Linked DNA regions of Homo sapiens. The protein of the gene in region 1 interacts with the protein of each later gene in a pairwise test. Each region holds a gene or a part of one and is shown in the gene's direction. Other genes may lie near its edges. The genes, in order: SLC71A2, SACM1L, TSNARE1, PEX16, THSD7B, CYB5B and TMEM19.

Region 1 (3,500 bases):
TTTTATTGCCAGAAATTTTGGGATTTTTAATAAAATCCATTAGAAGTTTAAAAAGCTAACTTATAGATATGCATTTGACATTTAGTGTGGTTATAATTTGGAGTTTGCCCGATAAGCATCTGACCATCCAGATTGTGTTCTAAAATAAAGTGGACATTCCACATGCTTATAGGAGTGCACTGTGAAGGGGCTCAAGGTGGCTTCAGGTTGTGGGTGTGCTTAGCTGGCTCTGTGGTCTCTATACTGGATAGGGTCAGGTGGTGACAGAGAGACAGAAATCTACAGCTGTCTAGTCAAAAAGCTTCAACTTCCACCTCAACAAATTCTTTGTTGTTGTTAATAGTTTTTTTCTAAGAATAGCAGAGGGTTCCCCCTGACCCCAGGCAGTGCTAATGAAATGACCACCAAATGATAAAATGTTCAAACAGTGCAGTGTTTTTAGAAGATTAAATCAAGCACAGTACTTGAGTAGTTTGTAAGTTTTATCATCAGCCCTGCAGGAATTCTTTTCATACCATCTCACATCCCCGGTCCCCAGTTAAAGAAGACCAAAGAGCTAATGTTTTATTTGTGGGGAAGGTTTTTACAATTTTTGTTTGTAATAAGATAATCCTTTTTTACTCTTGTAGCTCTGCAGGGTATCTCCAGTTAATAGTTTATGAACACATTCTTAAATCACTTTAATTCTCTTTCATTCTTAAAATTTATATGCAACACATTTCTTTTGTCTTACTTAAAGCCAGGGAAGCATGGCTGCAGGTATGCACCTGTGGGACCCTGGTTGAGTGTGCTTTCCTGAAGGTGTGCACCTGCAGCAGGCAGACCTGGGTAAGGATATGCTTTCCCCAGAGGTGTTCACCTATGGGACCCTGGGTGAGAGTGTGCTTTCCCACAGGTCTCAGCCACCTTTGCGGCTAGTCTTGTCAGCAGCCCGGCCATTGGAGCATATCTTTCTGCCAGTTACGGAGACAGCCTCGTTGTGCTGGTGGCCACAGTGGTGGCTCTTCTGGACATCTGCTTCATCTTAGTGGCTGTTCCAGAATCTCTGCCTGAGAAAATGAGACCGGTTTCCTGGGGAGCTCAGATTTCTTGGAAACAAGCAGACCCTTTTGCGGTAAATAAAAATATGGAAATATTTACTTTCCTAAATGTCTTTCTAAGCCAAGCAAATGAAAGTATGTATGTGCAGCCTCAAGGATCCTAGCAGTTGTTGACTTATTTCTTTAGTAAAAATAGAAAAAATTAATTGCAAGTAAGGGATTGAGTTAGTCTTTGTATTAAGAAATATATAGAATTGGTACTTAAGCATGTCATAAACGAAGAGAGAGAAAATGTCTAGTTAATTCTTGGTGAGAGTTTGGGAAGAGAGTTTCTTTTTGCATGGTTGTTTTCATCCTTTTTAAACAAAATAAGTGAAAGTGGTCATTTGAAGTGGTCATTTTCACTCATTTTAACTCAAAAAGGATAAATGCCTTTGGTTTGAATGAGTTATTTTAATTTTGACCAGAGACGTTTAATTTGTTTGTTACAGATTGAGTATTGTTTTCTATAATATGTCTCTCTCTCCCTCTCTACCTCCCTCCCTTTCCTCTCCTTTTCCACCCCCTTCTTTTTTGGCATGGGAAGGTGGTGTGTCACTGGAAAACATATCTTATCTCTCACCTTCTCTCTACCCTACCTGGTTTGAAATTGTTCTTGGGGAAAAAAAAAGTTTGTAGACAAAAAAAGAACCAGCAGTTTGGTTTCTGCTTTTCGTCCCCCAAGTTTACCTTTCAGAAAAATTCATGTAATCAATCAGAAATTACTTTTTCTAAAATACCCCCTGAGGGCATGACCTAGGGATCCTGCCTGTTCTATTATTGTCACAATGTCAGACACCAAAAGAAATATTTAGAGAAGGAAGCCAGTAGTGGGGTTGGGAGCCAGCCAGTTAGGCTTCCCACCTTCCTTTGTAGTGATCAAGTTATGCATCAAAGCTCCTCTGTGAAGTAGAGCTACTGTGGCTTACTTTTCCGGGCAATCGTGGGGATTACTGTTAATGTGTGTAAATTAACTAGCCTAGTGTCTGTTGCCCAGCAAAGTCTCAACAACATTAGCTGCTTTTGCTTATTAATTACATAAAAGCTATGGTCTGATGAGCTAGAAGCTCTGTAGCACTTTCCACTCCTTTGGTATTAACTTACCATTTTGTTCTATTCAACAATCCAATGTATGTAAGAAGGATTTTTCAACAAGGTTGTAACATTCAACAAGTTCTTACCAGTTTGACCTTATGGCTGGAGCGTACTTATTTGTCTACCAGATATAAAAGTTGAACATGAACACTTTGAAGAATAGAGTGAATTTACCTATACGGAAACGCTCTGTACTGAATATGGCTTTAAAGAAGTTACATTATGAATTGAGAGAAGTGATTTTCTTAAAAGGTTCTGTAGGAATATATTTCCAGGTTCTGTTTATAGGAAGTTCGGGATCTGTTCAGGGATTTTAATCAGTGTGTTAACAAAGATGAGTAAGTGTGTTTTGTGGGTTTATTTTTTTGCTTTTTTTTTTAGCTATATGATTTGAAATATATACCTCTGAAATTAAGACTTGTAACTTCCTCAGAAAGATGGTGATAGAACTTCCTTTTATTAACCATTTGACTTTTGTTATTCATCTTAATAGATCAAAATAATGAAGCTGATGTCCCAGAACATTGGCAACATTAATGTGTATTGGCATTTTAAGTGTGTTCTTTCTGCTTATTCTCAGTCGTTGAAGAAAGTTGGAAAAGATTCTACTGTCTTACTAATCTGCATCACCGTGTTTCTTTCATACCTTCCTGAAGCTGGACAGTATTCAAGTTTTTTTCTCTATCTCAGGCAGGTGAGTAGTGAGTGGCTAGTAGCCTTTCAATACCAGGAAAATCAAAGATGGAGATTTGTCTAAAGATATTTTGAGGAAACCACTGCAGAGGAAAAAACATGTGAACTTGCTTCTAGTTACAAATGTAGGTGCTGGCATATAATTAGTAAACAGGGCACCTTTAATGCAATGATTTATAGTAAGATAATTACTGTGGAAATTTTTTTTTCTTGAGAATTAACCAGAATTAGCAGAAACATAATTTATCTTTTTTTTTTTTTGAGACGGAGTTTTGCTCTTGTCCACCAGGCTGGAGTGCAATGGCACGATCTTGGCTCACTGCAACCTCTACCTTCTGAGTTCAAGCGATTCTCCTGTCTCAGCCTCCCGAGTAGCTGGGATTACAGGCGTGCACTACCATGCCCAGCCAATTTTTGTATTTTTAGTAGAGACAGGGTTTCACCGTGTTGGCCAGGTTGGTCTCGAACTCCTGACCTCAAGTGATCCACCCGCCTCGGTCTCCCAAAATGCTGGGATTACAGGCGTGAGCCACTGTGCCCAGCCTGTTTTTTTTTTTTTTTTTTTTAAATAGACTATTTTTCTAGAACAGTTTTAGGTTCACAGCAAAATTGAGAGTAAGATATAGAGATTTC
Region 2 (3,500 bases), on another chromosome or scaffold:
TGCTTTTAAAAATCACCTGGGCAGCTTTCAGACAGCAGCAGCAACAACAGCAAGACTCCAGCATCTGGGCCTCACTTGAGACCTGTGGAGTCAGGATTTCTGGGAAGTGAGGCCCGGGTACTGGTGTGTTCTTAGCCACCCTGGGAGATTCTGATGCTTGGGGAGGGTTGAGAGCCACCGCTCCACAGTGCTCCTCAGACCTTACCGTGTACCTGAAGCACCAGTCTTGAGATGTGCTCTAAAAAGCACCCAGGTGATGCTGATGCTGCTTTCAAAGACTGCACTGAGTAATGAGGACATTAATGAGAACATTTTGAATGTATTATGCATGCAGTGGCTCTTTTTCTGCTATGTGGGTTCCCTGGGAGCAGAATAAGATTTCTAGTCTGTTTGCTTTGCTGTGTCCTACCACTTAACCTGGGCTATGTATTTCTCTTCATATTTCTTGTCTTTGCAACTGGAATTAGTGTGTTTCTTTGTGCCTCCTTTGGTAATATTTTAGAAAGAAAATAGGTATTTCTTGGACCTACAAGTGATTTCTTTTGTGAAGTATCTGTATTTTCAGGGATAGTTTTTAAAATCTGTCACTCACTTATTTCTATACCTTATGCTTATTGGCCATAAAACAGTGTGAGAATTCAGTGTACAAACCTGTAACTTAAAATTTAACCTCTTTAACCAGAACTGGAAAGAGAACTCATTTGGGACTTATAATGGATGGCTGGAACTCAATGATACGATATTATAAGAACAACTTTTCCGATGGATTTAGACAAGTAAGTTTGTATTTGATGCTTTCCTGGCATTACGTGGTTGTATCTTTGCATTGTTCATCACTAATGTTATCTCACACTGAGTTTACGAATTTCTTCCTTTCTGTTCTAGGATTCCATAGACTTATTTCTTGGAAACTATTCAGTGGATGAATTAGAATCTCATAGTCCTTTAAGTGTTCCAAGGGACTGGAAATTCCTGGCTGTAAGAAACCATTTTGTATTTTTCAAGTTTTTAAAAGCATTGTGTCTGAAGGTATAGATGGTTTCAGTCTCAATTTAAAACGTTATATGTGGTTTTATATTTCATTACATGAAATATAAATACTTAAGTTTTCCAAAGAGGTCAGGCTGAGGAGTACAGTAACTGTGGAGCATTTGTTTTCTTTTCCTCAGACTCTCACACATCCTTTTCATGTGAAGTAACATAAGCAAAGGGAATGTGGAAGCTTTCTCATTTCAGGAAAACTTCAATTCTCTTACATTGAGGGAATTGCCAGAGACAAACGTGTTACATGGAAGGCAAAGTTTATTTTTGATGCTTCTCTCCTTTTTGACTCCTCTGTTCACCAGACCCTGCAAGAGCCGCTCTGGATTTTCTTTCCAGTGTGTCAAGTGCTCTGGAATGGAAGGGAGGCCTAGTGTTCTAGGTCCTCATCTGGGCATCCTCCTTCCATTTAGCACCCTTTGGCTTGGAGCAAAAGCATGCTTCTTCCGATCTTACCACATCCCCCATCTAAAGTCTAGGGCAGTTGTGATTGAACCCATAAATAATAATGTTTTGTTGACAAAAGATATTAGCTGTGTATTAGCTGACAGATGAGTTTTATTCTTTTCCCAAGCAATGCATGCACAACTGATTTTGCTGCCATTGATTAGCATTCTTAAATGATGATCTCTTTCTATTGTCTTTTCCAGTTGCCTATTATCATGGTTGTTGCCTTTTCAATGTGCATTATCTGTTTGCTTATGGCTGGTAAGTCTGCTCCACACATTTGTTTCTTAGTTAGAATGTTGACCTTTCTTTTACAACATCTTAAGTTTTTGAGTTCACCGAACACTTGATGTTTCCCTATTAAATTTAATGGGTAAAGTGGATGTGACATTAGATTGTCATTAGATGTGACAGGAAGAAAAATAACATACCTAGTAGTTTGATGGTTGTCGTTTTTTTTAACCTCAGATTTTAAAAACATGTTTTTCTTATTACTGTAAACCAATGAGTGTCTGAGACAGGTCTCAGTCAGTTTAGAGGCTTAATTTGCCAAGGTTGAGGACCTGCCCAGGAAAAAGAGACACAAGATACAGTAGGATCAGTATCTTGTGCTTTTTCCAAAGAGGGTTTTAAGGACTTCAGTATTAAATGGGGAAAGAGTGTACAGGAGAGGAAGGAGGAATGGAAACAAAAGGGGAGGGTAGGTAGTAAGATAAGTGGTCACATTCTTGTGAGGCTTTGATTAGCACTCACTGAATCCATGTTACATGTGAAAGGACGGGGTAGAGGAACAGTCAATTATGCATTCATCTCCTGCTCAGTAAATCTGCATTTTATGTAAGACAAAGTAAACATAGAGTAGATAAAGAAGTCAGATCTGCATTTGTTTTGGGGTGGGCGGAGGGATGATTTTCTAGTCTTGTCTTTGTCCCATACCTGTGAAAATAAACTGTTAATTTACATTGTCAGGGTGAGGGAGATTCAACAGGACTGTCTTTTAGGGTAAAGATTTTGGGGCCCACAAGGAATTTGCTTGTGACAGTTTGTGAGGGTGGCCATCTGTGAGGATATGTGGCCCACTATCTTTGCAGCTGTCTACTTAGGAACAAAAGGAGGGTAGTTTTGTGAGACTCAGTTCCCAAGTTTAACTTTTTCCTTTGGCATAGTAAATTTGGAGTCCTGAGATTTTATTTTCCTTTCACATTACCAAAGTAATACATAGTAATTATAGAAAGCACACGTAGGCAGAAAAGGAGAAAATATTATTTATCATCATACCTTTGAGAGAGAAGCTAACCACTCTTAACATTTTGATGTTTTAATCTTTATAAGTGTCTGTGATTTTTTTTCAAAAGTGAGATACGTATTTTCATTATCTGCTTTTTTTCACTGAGCAGTATGTTTTCCCATGTTCTTAATTGCTAATGGCTGCAAAGTATTCCATTTATGGATGTATAGTTTAACCAACTCAAATAAATGTTAATGGATTAAGATATTACTTATCATTACATTTTAAAGGTTGAGAGTAAAATTGCCTGAGAACCTGAGGAGACAAGGTCTTTACTGGTTTTCTTTTTTCTCTTAATATTTTGCTATGTTACTGAGTTAATAAAGCATTTAAGATTAAAGTGAGAAGAATGTATTCTTTATTCTCCTTTGAGTAATGTCCTGTAATTTGGAGGTTTGAGTCTGAGACTTGGTGTATTGGACGTTGGAGATGCAATCCTAGTCACTCTGAAAGAAGAGGCACCTTCCAGCCTTCATCCTCTATCCTGAATTCGTTGAGCCAACCTCTCTCTGCCTGTCTGAATTCCACCATCCTCAGGGCACCATTCATATGCTCCCCTCTCACAGAGTGTCTCTCCCACACAGAAGTCTTCACCTTCTGTCTGGATTTCCACAGCACTCCTGGTCCTCTCTCCCAGCACTTTCCTCTTTTAACCTCATTAATACATAGGGAGTTATTTTTCAGAGGTGGTATACCTCTTTGGTGTACCTGACATACCCAGTGT
Region 3 (3,302 bases), on another chromosome or scaffold:
CTGGAAGTCCCAGATCAGGGTGCCGCCAGGGCTGGGTTCTGATAGGGCCCTTCTGGGCTGCTGAGGGTGACCTCTCCTACATCCTCACGTGGCGGAGGGAGGGCGGGAGCTCTTGGGGCCTGGATCCCACCAGGAGGCTGCACCCTCAGGACCACGGCACTTCCCAGAGGCCCCACCCTTCACAGCATCACCCTGGGGGTTATTTTCGCCTTTGAGTTTTGGAGGAACACAAGCACTCAGACCGTAGCAGGGGCTGGAATGAGGCTGGTTGTGATTTTAAACAGGCCTCACCGAGAGTGGGGTGCAGGGAAAATCATTCCAGCAGAGGGAACAGCCCAGGCCCAGCGCAAGGTAGACCTTGGGCCTGGCAGAGCCCAGAGTTCTGGGCAGGAAGTGAGGGGCCAAGTTTTGGGGATGACTGGAGAACTATCCCGAGGGATCCAGGGACTGGGTGCAGTGGGGCACAGACGGGCACCATCCCAAATCCGGGGTGGCGGGGAGAGGAGGTGGCAGGGGTGGGGCAGCCCCAAGGGGATTCTGGATGTGCCAAGGCCGAGCCCCATGGCGGAATGAAGGGTCCAGGGAGGCCCTGTGGTGTGGATGGGGCCAGGCTGGAGCTGTGGGTGGGGAGCGGGGTCTGCCCTGACTCCAGCTGCAGCCCTGCAGTGGCCGCCCATCCTCCTTTCTGGGTTCCCAGGGCCAGGCGGGCCGCACCCAGCGTCATCGCCTGCTCCCTGGACCTTGGCTATGTCAGAGTCGGCCAGTCCCTGAGCCCTGAGGCCCTCAGACCCTGGCCATGCCTCTTGCCAGCCCTGAGGACCCCCTCATACCAGCTATGGAAAGCCTTGGGGGCAGGACAGGTGTCTCCAGGGACTGGCATTTTGGGGACAATCCTGGAAAGGCCAGGGCTTCCCGGGGGGGCTGGCTCTGATGGGGAGCCCCACAGCACCGGGTGCCTTTTGGGGAGAATCCTGGAAAGGCCAGGGCTTCCTGGGGGGCTGGGCTCTGATGGGGAGCCCCACAGCACCAGGTGCCTTGGCTCAGCTCCGCCCTGCAGGAGCCGCCTGCACATCACGTGGGCCACCTGCTGGGCACCTGGCTCAGCACCCAAGAGGCCCCTCACTGGCCCAGGCCCACAGCCTCACCCTCCCCTCGCCTCCCTGCTTCCTGTGGTAATTGGATTTCGGGGAGCCAGCAGTGAGTGTGCCACCAAGTCCTGAGGGGCCCCCTCCCCAGCTGCCTCCTTCCTCTGCTCCTCCAGAAGGCCCTGGCCTTTTGCTCCTGGCCGCAGGGAGTTTGCCGCCCACAGCCCTGTCTCCAGCTGCCTCTGCCCACGGCCAGGCAACTGGCGTTTGTCCTTATTGGACTTTTATAGGGGTTTTCAGTTTTTTGTTTTGAAAGTAGATTTATTGGTTGTGCAAAAATGATACATGCTTGCTGCAAAAAAGTCATCATGGAAAAGTACAGAGAAGCAGCAACTGCCCCCTTGCCATCTGCCCAAGGCTAGAGGGGCACGTGATGGGGCCTCAGGAGCAAGTGGCCTGCTCCCCAGGAGAGGGGCTGGAGGAGGGGCATTCTCCCCAGCCCCGGAGTCCGCACAGGATTTCCCTGGCAGGGAAGGATTAGAGAGGAGGGGAGGGAGGGCAGAGTCGGAGGGGAGAGAGGGAGGCGGAGGGGGTAGGGAAGGGGGAGAGGAAGAGGGGAGGGAGGGGAGAGAGGGAGGGGAGAGGAAGGGAGGGGGAAAAGGAAGGATTGGAGAGAAGGTGGGGAGGGGGAGGGAGGGAAAAGAGAGGGAGAGTGAGGGAGGGGAGACAGGAAGGTGGAGGGGGAAGGGAGGGGGAGGAGGAAGGATTAGAGAGAGGGAGGAGGAGGGAGGGGGAGGAGGAAGGATTGGAGAGAAGGAGCAGAGGGGGAGGGAGAGGAGAGAGGGAGGAGAAAGGATGGGAGAGAGGGAGGGGGAGGGAGGGAAGAGAGGGACCGGGCAGGAGAGAGGGAAGGGGAGGAAGGATTGGAGAAAGGCGGGGAGGGAGGGAAGAGAAGGAGAGGGGACAGGAGAGGGAGGGACAGGGGGGGGAAGGATTGGAGAGAAGGAGGAGGAGGGGAGAGGGAGGGGCCAGGGAAGAGGTAGGGTCGTCTCGTGGGCTTGGAAGTCAGGTGGAAGCGTGCCCAGGAGAGGGAGGGCCGGTGGGTGCGCCAGGCAGGGCCTGCTGTACTGGGCCTGGGGAGCTCCGGTGGACTCGGGAAGGCTCTAGCTGCAGGAGTCCGCAGCCTGGGCACATGGATGCGGCCAGGAAGGATGGACTGGGCAGGGATGGAGTGCAGGGCAGGGGATGGTGCTGAGCGTGGGGATGGGTGACCGAGGCCTGCGTGGAGCCTGACCAGGGCCAGGAGAGTCTGGTCTGGCCCCTGCAGCTGCAGGTGGCCACTCCCCTCTCAGGGCCCTACCTCCATGGACACTGTCAGCCCCCAGACCAGGCCCAGGTGCTTCCCACCCCACCCTCTGGCACTCTGAGCTCTCCCTGTCACCTGGTCAGGGCCCTGACTGAGCCTCCACTTTCTCATCTGCAGCATCGGCCGCTGAACCGTCAGCTGGCTGTGGTGTGGGCTCTCCAGCCCCGAGCACCCCTCCTGGCCCGGAGCTGGGAGCTGATGGAGTCCGCTGCGTTGTCAGCTGATGCCGTCACTTGGCCTGCAATGGACCCGAGAGCTTCACAGCTGCCTGCTGTCCTCCCCTGCACTGACCCCACTCGCCCCTGTGTCGGCCCCAGCTGAGCACCCGAATAAACCGCTGTGGCTTATCCAGCCACGTGCCTGTCTTCACCTGTCAGGGACCCCTGAGATGAAGCCTGGGTGGGATGTGGATGGGAATGGAGGCCAACAGGACTGCAGGCGGCAGGCTGGGGCTTGCTGGGGAGTGAGTGTGGCTGTGTGTGAGCTTGTGTATGAACATGAACCTGTGCTCACAGCTGGGGAGGGGCATGCTGGGGGCTTTGCTGTGGTGGAGGGGTGGGAAGCTGGCTTGGTGCTGCGTGGAGCCAGGGCACTGCTCCTTGCCTGGGGCTGTCCCAGCCCCCACCAAGAGGGGCTTCCCCGAGGAGGAGGCTGCCTGAGTGGCCTGGAATGCCACACTGAGCCCTTGATGGGCGGAGGTCGTTTGTCTTCCTCCCTGAGGGCCTAGGACAAGCCCTTGCCCCTCCTGAGACCTCAGCTTCCCACTCCGAAAGCAAAGGGCTGGCTTTGGCCCTGGCTGCTCCCAGGCTGTGGCCTCTCTGCTGCTTGCCACCCAGCTCCACGTTGGGGGC
Region 4 (2,857 bases), on another chromosome or scaffold:
GAGTGCTTTCCTCTGTGGACGGGTCTTGTGCTGAGCCGCCACCCTGCTTGTAGTTCCCTTGACTCAGCTGTTGCCATAGTACAAGCTCATCTGTTCTCCCCTTAGCTCCTGAGCATTCACTGCACACGTTCTTTGCAGGCTCCGCTGGAAGCATGTCCCTCTGACTGTATGGCCTTCTGTCTATCCCTGCTAGATGGTGACCACAGCCCTGGCAACCATGAGCAGTCCTACGTGGGGAAGCGGTCAAACCGGGTGGTGCGAACCCTCCAGAACAGTAAGTGGAGGATGTGGCTGGCCTGGGCACCTAGGTGCTGTCTGCCTGGGCTTGAGGGACTGGCTTTGGTCAGCAGCCACCTTCCCCTGCCCCAGCCTGGGCCTGGCTCGCTCATCTGCCGCCCTTGTGTTCTAGCGCCGTCCCTGCACTCCAGGCACTGGGGAGCTCCCCAGCAGCGGGAGGGACGGCAGCAGCAGCATCACGAGGAGCTGAGTGCGACCCCCACCCCCCTGGGGCTGCAGGAGACCATCGCAGAGTTTTTGTACATTGCCCGGCCGCTGCTGCACTGTATCCTTAGCGCGGGGCAGGATAGGGCTGGCACTGTGGGCTGGGGATTGAGTGGGGAGTGTGCTGAGCAAGGCCCCTGTGCTGGAGACATCCTTGACGCCTTGGCCGTCAGTGCTCAGCCTGGGCCTGTGGGGTCAGAGGTCGTGGAAACCCTGGCTCTTGGCTGGTGTTGTGGACGTGACCAGGTGAGCCTGGGCCTGCCTGGGGCTTCACTCTCCACTGGGCTTTCTGCTATAATCCTGGCCTCACATAGGCGGGGTGGCAGCGGCCCCTGCTCCTCCTGTTGCTGCCCCTCTGGACACCCAGCCCATGGCTCCTCCCCTTCCGTGGGCCTAGATCATGCCCCTGGCCCTGACCATGTCCTCCCTGCCTCCCAGCCTGAGCCTCCTGAGTGACAGAAAGGGCCTGACCCGGAGGGAGCGGCGGGAGCTGCGGCGCCGGACCATCCTGCTGCTCTACTACCTGCTGCGCTCTCCTTTCTATGACCGCTTCTCCGAGTAAGCACCCAGGACACCCTGAGCCAGGGAGAGGGCTGGCAAGCGGGCACTGGTGCTCCGGTCCCTGCTGGCGCCTTCCCTTCCCCACGCCTCATCCAGGGTTCACCAAGCACTGTGTGTTGTCCGGGTGGCAGTCACCAGATGCCAGCCCAGTCCCGCCCGCAGAGCTCTCTGGGCCATCAGGCCACTTGAGCAGGAACTTAAACATTGGTTGGCAGGAGAGGCACTGAGGGCAGGGCTGAGGGCATTGCCAGGTGGCCCACAGGGATGGCGACAGGGCGGGCGCCCATGGCCTCTAGCTCATTTCCACTTCTTCCTGCCAAATAGTTTGGCTTATCCTCACTTCTCAGAGGAGGACCTGGAGGTTCAAGGAGGTTGGGCAACTTAAAGACACCCAGCTAGCCAGTGGTAGAGCTAGATCCCAAACCCAGGATCTCCCCTGGCCTTCCCTGCCTGGCCCAGCCCCCACTCAGTCACCTGCGAGGGTCCAGAGCTCCCAGCCTGAGAGAGGCCTGCTGGGTTGAGCAGGGGGCAGCTTGGGACTAGTTCTTCCACAGGCCTGCCACTATGACTGCTTGAGGTTAGACCACAGTCTGACAGGGGGAAACCCTGTGCAGTGGCTGGGACTGTGAGGCAGACAAGGCTCCCGGGACCCCCTTTGTCTAGGACCTAATAATAGCTTAAAAACTGGCATAGGCTGGGCAGCAGTGGCTCACACCTATAATCCTAGCACTTTAGGAGGCCAAGGCAGGAGGTTGGCTTGAGGCCAGGAGTTCGAGACCAGCCTGGGCAACCCAATTCTACAAAAAAAAAAAAAAAATAATAATAATTAGCCAGACATGGTGGTGTGCGCCTGTAAGTCCTAGCTACTCAGGAAGCTGAGGCATGAGGATCAGGCCAGGAGGCTGAGGCTGCAGTGAGTTATGATCACTCCATCCCACTCTAGCCTGGGTGACAGAGTAAGTCCCTGTCTCAAAAAAACAAAACAGAAAAAAAAAAACAAAACTGGCATAGTTTAGCCAGGCACGATGCCTCACACCTGTAATCCCAACACTTTGGGAGGCCGAGGCGGGCGGATCACAAGGTCGGGAGGTAGAGACCATCCTGGCTAACATGGTGAAACCCTGTCTTTACTAAAAATACAAAAATTAGCCAGGTGTGATGGCACACGCCTGTAGTCCCAGCTATTCAGGAGGCTGAGGCAGGAGAATCGCTTGAACCCAGGAGGCAGAGGTTGCAGTGAGTCGAGATCGCGCGACTGCACTCCAGTCTGGGTGACAGAGCGAGACACTGTCTTTTTTTGTTTGTTTGTTTTTGAGATGGAGTCTGGCTCTGTTGCCTGCCTAGGCTGGAGTGTAGTGGTGCAATCTTGGCTCACTGCAAGCTCTGCCTCCCGGGTTCATGCCATTCTCCTGTCTCAACTCCTGAGTAGCTGGGACTATAGGCGCCCATTACCATGCCTGGCTAATTTTTTTTGATTTTTTAGTAGAGATGGGGTTTCACCGTGTTAACCAGGATGGTCTCGATCTCCTGACCTCGTGATCCGCCTGCCTCGGCCTCCCAAAGTTCTGGGATTACAGGCGTGAGCCACCGCGCCTGGCCTGACCCATCTTTTTTTTAAAACAGAAAAAAGAGTAAGGCTGCTCCTTCTGGACCACACCCTGGCACCTCTCTGGACCCTGCTCCCTGTCCTTTAGGGAAACAAAGGCCCGCCTTGGCCTCCTAAAGTGCTGGGATTATAGGTGGAGCCACTGCACCCAGCCAGCCTTCTTCTTTTCTTTTCTTTTGTTTTTTGGGA
Region 5 (3,500 bases), on another chromosome or scaffold:
AATGATACAATATATTAAATACATGATTAAGACAAACAGATTAAAGAATTCTAAGTAGTGACAACTATATTAGTTGATGGGAAAAAAAGAATAGCACTATTAAGGCTTCAGAGATGCTCTACAGACAAAGCATAAAGGCTGGGTCTTTGAATAACTATTGGGTATTGTATTATCAAAAACTACATGAGTTACTTAGATATGCTGTTGGATTTTTGAATATGGATTGCACATAAGTGCTTCATATTTTCAAAAGAAAATGTTTCCCAGTATATAACTATAAAAGAAGCTGCTTCATTAACTTTAACACCAGGCAGCTTCCTAAATATAACACAGGTCCTTAATTTAGAGCTGTTAACAAGATTAATATCTAAGTGATAATTAGCACGTTAAACCTGTGAAAGTAGAGGGATTTTTAACTCCACTTCTAGTCTAGAAATTTACTATTGTGAATTTTAGTGGGGTCTGTAGTTTAACAGATCTAAAATCACAGGCACCTGTGCTCCAAGATGATAAGCATTCTATTCCCACCCTTTAAAACTTCTCCATCTACCGAGATTATTTTGTGGACGTTTTAGTAGGATGTTCATGGGTGGTTATTCTTGAGAGCTAACAGTGGCTATTTTTGAAATGAAGCCAAGGAGGATTAGGTAGTTTTTGGTCATCTTGTAAGTATCTCTTGACAAAAGGAAATAGGAATCCCAGCCACTGAATTCCTACATTTATGCTTTCATTCTAAGCCATGAATCCTGGTATGGGCTAGTTATACAAAATATAGAGACGTAGTTATTTTGCCAGGTTATAGTCCACCGGTGATTTAGTATGATCATTTTGTTGCTACCACATCAAGCATTTCATTTGAAAGGGAAAATCAGATATTAGTGAAACCCAATTACTCCGTATCTTTTGGTAAAACTTTGAAACTAACTCTAGAGATGCTGTAGAATAGTTTCACTGCTGGTAGGGACTCATGCTTTTGGTAACAGGAGTTGAATCTAAGCGTGGTTTGTAAGCTGAACAATGAAGTCATCTGGCATCTATAAGAACTACTTTAAGTGTGTATATACTGTTGTGATGACTAAAACACAGTATGTATAAAAGCATCGCTAAATTCATATTAATTTTTGGTTACTAGGTATTTTTGCAATTTATGGATTCTAAAAACACAACTCTTTGCTGTGATGTGGAAATCAGTAGAATTTTTTGACGTTAAAAAGAAGAGGTCCACCTACTAGAAAAGGTTAGACATTGACCTAGATGTGGAGATCTGTGAAAGTGTGAAAATGTTTCCTGCATGAATAAAAAAGGCTATCATTGTTGAACTTAGGTGTTTTGCAGCAAGGGACATGATGCTCGCTTTTGATTTTGCCTTTCTGGGCATATTTTAATTATGAGCCTCTTGTAATTAAACATGCCATAGCTAAAAACAGAATCCTAAGTAACTAATGCACAAACGATTTTTCAATGCCTTGACTTGGAAGAAACTCATGGCCGTGTTCCACTTGCCTGCATGAGGGCTGGCTGCTGATTTGTGTCCTAGTGTTATGTTAGCGAACAGCTCATTACTTCTGGAAAAATCACAATGTTGAGTAAGGCTCTGAACTTCGTGGCAGTTAGGCACGATTGCCTTAGTCTTAGACTGCAGCTTTGTAGCAATGCATATTTTAATTTTGAGTTCTTTCAGATGGTTATTTTAAAAAGCATACCATGTAGTATGCATACATGAAAGATTTTAATTATAATAAGACTAAGGCTTGCAGTAATCTCTTCTTGCAGAGTTTGCTTCTGGGCTCTCCTCTATTGATTTTTGCCTTTTGTGCTTACGTTAGACTTATTCAGGGCAAGTTAGACAGGGCACATGAATACAGCCTTACTGGTAAAAATATTGAACTATTTGTAAAATATTGAAATACTTGTAAAAATATTGAAATACATGTGCTCCAGTAGGTCAATGAGTATTGCTCTGAGCCCTCTGAAGGTCCCACTATCATCCTGGTCCTACAGACCACTCCCCTTAGATCACTTCTTGAGAGAGCCACTGGGTGTCACCCACCTGGTATGGCAAAGAGGCCTTGGGACACACTCCAGTGATATTACCTAAGGCTGTTCTGATTGGCTTATGCCCCAGACCTACCAACTGGTAAATATTTTAAATATTATCCCTTGATATTTGTACTCGTGACAAGAATGAATGCAATCATTGGCATTATCAAGTAGTTGAACATCAAATGTTTACATTTTAATTTTCTCTGTGTCTAATATTTCTGGCTGTTAAAACACTTAAATATTGTTATCTTTATATTATCTAGGAGCCCAAAGGTATCAAAACCCCTTTCATCTGAGTTATCAATTCATATAAAGCCACTCTAACTTCAATTTAATTTGTTTTCTTAGAAAATATAAAATAAGGATATTAAGTTCCTTCCTTCCTGTTAAGAGGAAGAGCCAAATTTCTCACCCAGGTCATCTGCCACAACTGTAAATTCTTCTACCTCACAGCTGTCTCAGACCACTTAATTAAAATGTATGTATGTGGGAGTAGTTCAACAAGGCTTCTTTCTTTTGGGGAAAAAGTAATTATTTTTTTTCAATCTCTGTTTCTAGTCTTCAGAATTAACTCAATTTATTTCATATTGACTTCCATTCACTTTTGTGATTAAATATTGTTAGTAGGGCTTTCATTTCATCTGACTTGACCCATTCTATGAACTGGAATATCTTCTGGCCAATCACAGAGAGGCAAGGGATGTTAATGACTTTGAGTAAAATTTTTTGGTGCTTTCTTCTGGATCTCTTCTAGCTAAAACTAAACTCCAGCACTGCTAGATGGTCCCTGAAAAACGTAACTTAAATTATGCTTATTTCTTGAACAGAAAAAATAGGATTCCAGATACTACATCAATTTAACTCTTGCCTGTCGTTAATTTCCTATTATCCACTTTCTTCTTCTTTTAGACCTATCTCTTTAAAGTCACCCACAAGACTCACACTTATTTAAAGTGGCCAAAAATGTTGCTTTCCCTACTCCTGTGGTCCCAGTTATCCAAATTATATCTATTAGTCAAAATCCAGTTCCAATTATACTTCCACTGAGCTTTCACTGATGATGCCAATTCACAAAGCCCTCTCTCAGTCTGAACAACTCAGGTGGTAAATTCTAATTTTCATGTTTGATTGAATCTATTTTCTTATTAGCATCTATGTGTGGAGTTCTGATAGTAAAGGATTTAAATGGTGAAGGGCACCACTCTCTACTGAGAATTCTGGAAAATGTTGAAGAGGGGAGTGTGATGGAGAGTAGGGGCCTGGGTAATAACAGCCATTTGAGGATCTGTAAGGTAAGGCTTACCAATATCCAGGTAGGCAACAAGTGTGACTAGTAATTATTACTATTAGTTAATTACCTATGAATTGCTGCATACCTAGCTAGGTACATTAGAATTTGTTTGTCTAATCCTCATAATAATGTTGCAAAGTAGGTACTGTTATTTAGTCCCTTTTTT
Region 6 (3,500 bases), on another chromosome or scaffold:
GATGATCTTGATCTCCTGACCTCGTGATCCGCCCACCTTGGCCTCTCATGTAATTCATGCCTGGGATTACAGGCATGAGCCACCGCGACTGGCCTTTTTGTCATTCTCTTAATCTTATCAAATTGGGTCAGTGCTTATGGTGCGACAAGGATCTGGGAAATTACTCCTCTATGTAGCTGGTGGAAGAGAGAAAAATCTACTTACGGTAGTGCTTCTTCAGTCTTCCTAGACATAAGAGAATGGTGTTTTCTTCTCTCTACCCTTTAGAAGCCTGCTGCTCTAGGTTTCACCACAATGTCCTTGGCTCAGAAAATTGTGTTGAGATAATTGAATATGACTTTAGAATTCACATTGATCTGAGCTTTTCGTTTTACAAACGAGGAAACTGATTTATAACATTGGGCTTGAAGATATTAGATATAATTTTAATTTTGAGCAGCTTTATAAATATTCTATTCAGGTATTACAAAATATTTCCTTTTTCCCTAAAAAGTCCGTCTTTTGTGTTTATATGTATATAAATATATTTATTTATTTTTGAGACAGGGTCTTGATCTGTCCTCCAGGCTGGAGTACAGTGGCACAATCCTAGCTCACTATAGCCTTGAACTCCTGGGCTCAGGTGATCCTCCTGCCTCAGCCTTCCCAGTGTTGGGATTCACCAGATGTGAACCAAGGTGCCCAGCCCTACTTATTTATTTTAGTGGGGAATTAAAGCCTTAATGAACCTTGAACTTGAGGAACCAGTTTTATTTAAACAGTTAATTTCCATGAGTTTTGAGCTAAAGTCAGAGTAGACTTAACAGCAATTTGTTTTAGAACCTATAATACCAAAACTCACAGCAATTTTGTTGTTTGCCAGTGTATTCTAAGCTTTTCGAAGAAAAAGAAGCATGCATATTAATTGCTTGGTAGGGGTTATGCTGGAAGAACTTTGGATTTGATTCACCACTTGTAACTAAAATCATAGTATTGCAATTATTACTTTCCAGGCCAAAGATTGAGAGCATTAAAATCTGGGCATGGACATAACCAGCTAGATATGCCTCAATACCTGAAGGGATAAATTAAAGTCAACTATAAACTGTAAGCTTTTCACTTAAGCATCCATTAGCTTTAGTCTAGTGCTTAGCTGTGGAAATGAAGACTGGGGGGAACTGTGCCTAGGGGAAGGGTGGAGGTGAAGGGAGGTTATGTGTTAATAGAACTTTTTTCATTTCAGTTTAAAAACAAGCGATTTGGTTTATTTCCAAATTTGGCTGAGAGTCCTGGCTGCTAAGAGCTGTGCCTTCAACATCTCTTTGATTATTATGTATTTGATTAAAAGTGGGGTCACTATGGTTTGCATCTACTTGGCTATCAGTATCCTAAAGGGAGTGTATGCCTCTTTCTCTTCTCTTTCCTTTAATGGGTTAGACAGGTTGGTCTTTTTTTTGCGTCCCCAGGGATGGATTGATCTTAAAACAGGCACATTTTGCAGTACTTAGTTCAAAGAACACCATATGTTTTAAGTTATTTATTGTTTAGAAATTTTTACATTTCAGCATAGTACGGTTTTGGCTGTCTTTGTTCTCTTTCTTCTTCAGTTGCTTATTACCTTTTTCTAAGGCTCACCCTACTTAGCAGAGATCCAGGGCTTTTGATTGTAAAAGAGGCTAAAAGCTTTGAAATTTAGAGAATCCATTTATATGAAGTATATGATTTTTACTCTAATTATAGATTAAACATCATAATACATATATTATGCTGTGATGCTCTCATATAAGCCTTTCAAATTATCCCTTTTAAAAATAGTAACTACATTTTTTGTCTATAAATCATTGGTATTTATGTAGCTAAAGCATAAAAGACCATGAACATTTTCTTGATGGAATTCAATTATTTCTCGGTTACTGTAGTGGAATATTTATTTTAAAAGGCAGCATTATAAATTAACTTGATGCACATACTACCATCGCTACCACTCCTACCTTCCGAATCTGTAGATAGTAACATTTGTTGTATTTTTCAAAGATTGACTTGTAACTCATTTTAATTAATCGGATCCTTACTAGACTAGTTGAAATGTCCCAGATAATGATAATCATTAAAGTCTTAAAGAAGTATAGAAGTATGTTAATATGGTTTCTTTAAAACCTTTCGTTTGCCATTTTTCTTGCCTACAGACTAATTTCTTTCAGGTTTGGGGCATGTATTCATTTGCATGACAGTGTTTTGGATATATGAAATTAAAACTCATTTCATGGACTGCTCTAAAGTATATTGGGGCCAATGTGATTGGTTTCTGGAAATTCTTGGAGATTATTGAAAACGGTGGTTAAGCAGAGCTAATATTCCATGTTCATACCCTGATATACTTCTACATTTTGCAAAGATGGTATTTTGGGCAGCAGCAACCTATGCTAAAGGGTTATTGTCCTCTGGCAGTAAGTTAGCAGGCCTTTTGTACTATACAGCTGGTTAATGGAATCAATAACTCGTTTGATACTTGAATTGAGTAAAAAAATTGTAATAACAGCTTTATCGTGATACAATTCACATACCATACAGTTTACCTATTTAAAATGTACAAATCAATGGTTTTTAGTGTATTTACAGAACTGTGCAGTCTATTTTAGAACAATTTCCTCACTCCAAGAAGAAACCCCATATTCATTAGCAGTCGTTTTCCATTTCCCCACAACTCGTCCTCCTCACACCAGCCCTAGGCAACCACTACTAATCTACTTCTAACTCTATTGATTGTCCTGTTGTGAACATTTTATGTAAACAGATTTATATAATATGTAGTCTTTTGTGTCTGCTTTCTTTCACTTAGGATAATGCTGTGAAGTTTGTAGCATATATCAATACTTCAGTACTTTTTATTGCCAAGATTTGTTTTTTAAGATTATTTTATCATTTTCTTTCCCTTGACTCCATTTTTTCTCTTTTCATTGTGAAATCAATTCTAAGGTCTCCTGTCATAATTATTATGATTTCAAGGAGTGAACCAGTATATTTTTGTGATCTACAAGCAATCATCTGTATGATCTAGAGCATTTCACAGTTGATCTACATGTTAGAAGAGCTTTTTGGACTTTAAAAAATGTTTTTAGAAAGTGTGATGTTAGCTATTGCCAGTGGCAAGCCCAGCTGAACCAGGTACATCATCATGACCACAGAGTAGTCCATTTCAATATAGTTTGTATCATTAACATTTTTTAACATCTAAAAAAGTTTAGGTCATTTCTATGCTTTCATTAGTGATTCTTCACTAGGAAGGAACCTAGTGAAGTGCCAGTATGTTATCAGAAATAAAATTCCCAGTCTATCCATTGCTTATATATTTGTAAACACCAAAATGCATGAAAGATGAAGTTCTGGTATCAGTTACAGGGTTGACATAGCTTGATCAAGAAAATGTACATGTGCTATGTTAATCTTCTTTCTTTTTGTTTGTTATTTTTGAATTTTTTTTTTTTTTTATTTCAGGACCCTTCAAAAAATGATACATGCAA
Region 7 (3,500 bases), on another chromosome or scaffold:
CAATGCTGGGCAGATTGCTTGAGCCCAGGAGTTTGAGACCAGCCTGGGCAATATAGTGAGACCCCATCTCTATTTCTAATTTTTTTAAATTAAGATAATTTTAAAAATATTATCTAAAATATTATCTTACATTCATATGGCATTGCTTGAAAGGAGATTAAAATATGGTAAAAAATGTGTACTCAAAATGGCATTCAGTTTACTGCTTGCTAAGAATTTAATTGGTAAAATGCAAATTGCTAGAAATGTACATTTCAGGTTATAATATAAAAATAATGGAAAAAATCCATTCTTTTTTCACAGCATTGATGTATGAATTGAATATAATTCTGTGTTTATATATGTTTCTTTCAGGGCTAGTCGTTGGATTTATCCTAACCATTGCAAATTTCAGCTTTTTTACCTCTTTGCTGATGTTTTTCTTGTCTTCTTCGAAACTCACTAAATGGAAGGGAGAAGTGAAGAAGCGTCTAGATTCAGAATATAAGGAAGGTAAAATTATGTTTGATATCATTCAAAATAGTAAACTTCATTTAATCCTAACATAAGGTTTTTTTTTGTTTTTGTTTTTGTTTTTTTTTTTGAGACGGAGTCTTGCTCTGTTGCCCAGGCTGGAGTGCACTGGCGCAATCTCGGCTCGCTGTAAGCTCCGCCTCCCGGGTTCACACCATTCTCCTGGCTCAGCTTCCTGAGTAGCTGGGACTACAGGCGCCTGCAACCATGCCTGGCTAATTTTTTTGTATTTTTAGTAGAGACGGGGTTTCACCGTATTAGCCAGGATGGTCGCAATCTCCTGACCTCGTGATCCGCCTGCCTCGGCCTCCCAAAGTGCTGGGATTACAAGCGTGAGCCACTGCGCCCAGCCAACATAAGCTTTTAATCAGAATGTTGTTTAAACTGTCAAAACACATCAATTTTATATGAGAATTCCTTTAGTAGCCAAATTGAGTTTATAATTTATTTCACAACAATGGGAAATGACAGCAGAATTTTAGAAGCACTAGAGTCTATCATGATTTTTCCAGATTTGTTAATAACAGTATAAAATCTGGGCAAATGTACCATAACACTTTTACTGTTTTTAAATTTTTTTGTTGTTTTTCTTTTCTTAAACTTTAAAACATAAACACCTATAACTGCATGGTTTTTCTTCTAAGGAGGAATCATTTGTTTGTCCTTTTCATCTGTTTGTTTCCAGGTGGGCAAAGGAATTGGGTTCAGGTGTTCTGTAATGGAGCTGTACCCACAGAACTGGCCCTGCTGTACATGATAGAAAATGGCCCCGGGGAAATCCCAGTCGATTTTTCCAAGCAGTACTCCGCTTCCTGGATGTGTTTGTCTCTCTTGGCTGCACTGGCCTGCTCTGCTGGAGACACATGGGCTTCAGAAGTTGGCCCAGTTCTGAGTAAAAGTTCTCCAAGACTGATAACAACCTGGGAGAAAGTTCCAGTTGGTGAGTTTTTTCTTCTTTTTGACCCATTGGTAGACACAGTTGGTGAGTCTTGATTTGAGATTCTTTAAAAAAACCAAAAAACCTCTTGATGTAATGTATTTTAGAGCCTTTTAAGAACTTTATTTAGTCTCTTTAAATAATAATTGGAAAATTTCTGTCGACTATTAAATTGGTAATAATAAATAATATTTGCAGGAAATGTTAGCAAGACCTAGATAAGCAATACAGGAACATAGAGATTGATTTGCAAACATATCAGTAGGGAAGGAAAAGAGAGGGAACAATAGAATATTTATTGAGGGCCTGTTAGGATATCAGTGCTTTAAGATATATCTCAATTCTCCATTATCAACATTATCAACAACTACATAGGTTGAGCATCTCAAATCTGAAAATCCAAAATCCAAAATGCTCCAAAATCTCAAACTTTTTGAACACTGACATGATGCTCACAGGAAATGTTCATTGGAACATTTCAGATTTACGATTTTCAGATTCGGGATGTTCAACTGTTAAGTCTATATAATGCAAATATTCCAAACTCTGAAAAAATTTGAAATCCAAAACACTTCTGGTCTCAAGCAATTCAAGTAAAGAGAATACTCAACCTATACTGCTTCTTTTTGTCCTCTGATGCTTCTCTTCCTCTTCGTCCCCTTCTTTTCTTTCTACCCATCCTATCCCCCATCATCACCTTCTCCTCCTTTTTTTTCTCCTCTTCTTCATCATCATTGTAACAGCTAGCATATTTTAGATACCTACTACAGAGCACTATTCTAACTGCTTTACACGGATTGCCACTTAGTACTCCTAATAATCATATAAATTGGTTCTTTTATTATTTATATCTTATAAAGAAACTAAAGCACAAAGAAGTTAGATAAATTAACTACAGTCACATGGCTTAAGAGTAGCAGAATTGGGCCTGGCAAGGTGGCTCATGCCTGTCATCCCAACTACTAGAGAGGCTGAGATGGGAGGATCACTTGAGCCTGGAGTTGGAGGCTGCAGTAGGCTATGATCACACCATTGTACTCTAGCCTGGTTGATAGAGCAAAACCTTGTCTCTGAAAAGAGAGAGAGAGAGAGAGAGAGAGAGAGAGAGAGAGAGAGAGAGAGAGAGAGAAGCAGAACCAAGATTGAAACCAGGCAGTCTGGCTTCATTGAACCATTCTGCTTCATTGCTTAAAATGTCAAGAGTTACCGAGGAGAAAATACTGTTTTCTAAAAAGCTACAGTCTTTAGATTGCATTAAAGAGAATGCTTTCTTTAAATTAGTCTTGATTAGATAGGTACCTTGCTGTCCTTGCCTTTATGTGTTTGCTGATTATTAACCGGATGATTTTCTGCATGTTTCTTCTTCAGGTACCAATGGAGGAGTTACAGTGGTGGGCCTTGTCTCCAGTCTCCTTGGTGGTACCTTTGTGGGCATTGCATACTTCCTCACACAGCTGATTTTTGTGAATGATTTAGACATTTCTGCCCCGCAGTGGCCAATTATTGCATTTGGTGGTTTAGCTGGATTACTAGGATCAATTGTGGACTCATACTTAGGGGCTACAATGCAGTATACTGGTAAGAACATTCCTTCATTCTTGCAACTTATTGGTATGTTAAAGAAATAGGGAAAAGAAAGAAAAAAATGTTAACAATGAAAACAAATCCAAAGACACAGGGTGTTGAGGGACTAGAAATGATAGGGCAAAGTCTCTTTCACAATTTTGGTTTTCTTATTCTTTTGTATTAAATTAATTGAAAGAGAATTAGTCCCGCGCAGCAATGATTAGAAGCCATGTGGGGAAGATACAATAGTGCAGAGAACAGACGTTTTTGTGTGAGCCATTACCTAATCCCAGAAAAGCAAGACGTTTGGGATCAGATCATTTTAATACAATTCCTTCCATTCATTTTCCTATTCCATTTGAGGAGTAATTGTACAAATCTGACTATACACACGACCTACTTTCTTACTGTGGTATCATGCTTGCTATTCTTGCCCCTGAGTTTTTTGCTTCATTAAGATATATGGTCGATGTCTGGGCACGGT

What was found.
Region 2: the proteins of SLC71A2 (region 1) and SACM1L interact in binary tests that used the Homo sapiens proteins (3 or more experiments, as listed by UniProt).
Region 3: the proteins of SLC71A2 (region 1) and TSNARE1 interact in a two-hybrid assay, tested with the Homo sapiens proteins (one large-scale study listed by BioGRID).
Region 4: the proteins of SLC71A2 (region 1) and PEX16 interact in binary tests that used the Homo sapiens proteins (3 or more experiments, as listed by UniProt).
Region 5: the proteins of SLC71A2 (region 1) and THSD7B interact in binary tests that used the Homo sapiens proteins (3 or more experiments, as listed by UniProt).
Region 6: the proteins of SLC71A2 (region 1) and CYB5B interact in binary tests that used the Homo sapiens proteins (3 or more experiments, as listed by UniProt).
Region 7: the proteins of SLC71A2 (region 1) and TMEM19 interact in binary tests that used the Homo sapiens proteins (3 or more experiments, as listed by UniProt).

What each region holds. Positions count from the first base shown.
Region 1 is NC_000009.12:94,444,069-94,447,568, forward strand, and holds part of SLC71A2 (hippocampus abundant transcript-like protein 1), read left to right. Parts: intron 1-895; coding exon 896-1,114; intron 1,115-2,754; coding exon 2,755-2,868; intron 2,869-3,500.
Region 2 is NC_000003.12:45,737,896-45,741,395, forward strand, and holds part of SACM1L (phosphatidylinositol-3-phosphatase SAC1), read left to right. Parts: intron 1-682; coding exon 683-776; intron 777-885; coding exon 886-978; intron 979-1,691; coding exon 1,692-1,749; intron 1,750-3,500.
Region 3 is NC_000008.11:142,211,580-142,214,881, reverse strand, and holds the end of TSNARE1 (t-SNARE domain-containing protein 1), read left to right. Parts: intron 1-2,568; 3' UTR 2,569-2,802; downstream 2,803-3,302.
Region 4 is NC_000011.10:45,912,021-45,914,877, reverse strand, and holds part of PEX16 (peroxisomal biogenesis factor 16), read left to right. Parts: intron 1-193; coding exon 194-274; intron 275-409; coding exon 410-562; intron 563-674; coding exon 675-747; intron 748-939; coding exon 940-1,059; intron 1,060-2,857. UniProt on the Homo sapiens protein: Required for peroxisome membrane biogenesis. May play a role in early stages of peroxisome assembly. Can recruit other peroxisomal proteins, such as PEX3 and PMP34, to de novo peroxisomes derived from the endoplasmic reticulum (ER).
Region 5 is NC_000002.12:136,768,545-136,772,044, forward strand, and holds part of THSD7B (thrombospondin type-1 domain-containing protein 7B precursor), read left to right. Parts: intron 1-3,500.
Region 6 is NC_000016.10:69,455,619-69,459,118, forward strand, and holds part of CYB5B (cytochrome b5 type B), read left to right. Parts: intron 1-3,474; coding exon 3,475-3,500. UniProt on the Homo sapiens protein: Cytochrome b5 is a membrane-bound hemoprotein functioning as an electron carrier for several membrane-bound oxygenases.
Region 7 is NC_000012.12:71,696,082-71,699,581, forward strand, and holds part of TMEM19 (transmembrane protein 19), read left to right. Parts: intron 1-354; coding exon 355-492; intron 493-1,198; coding exon 1,199-1,453; intron 1,454-2,818; coding exon 2,819-3,028; intron 3,029-3,500.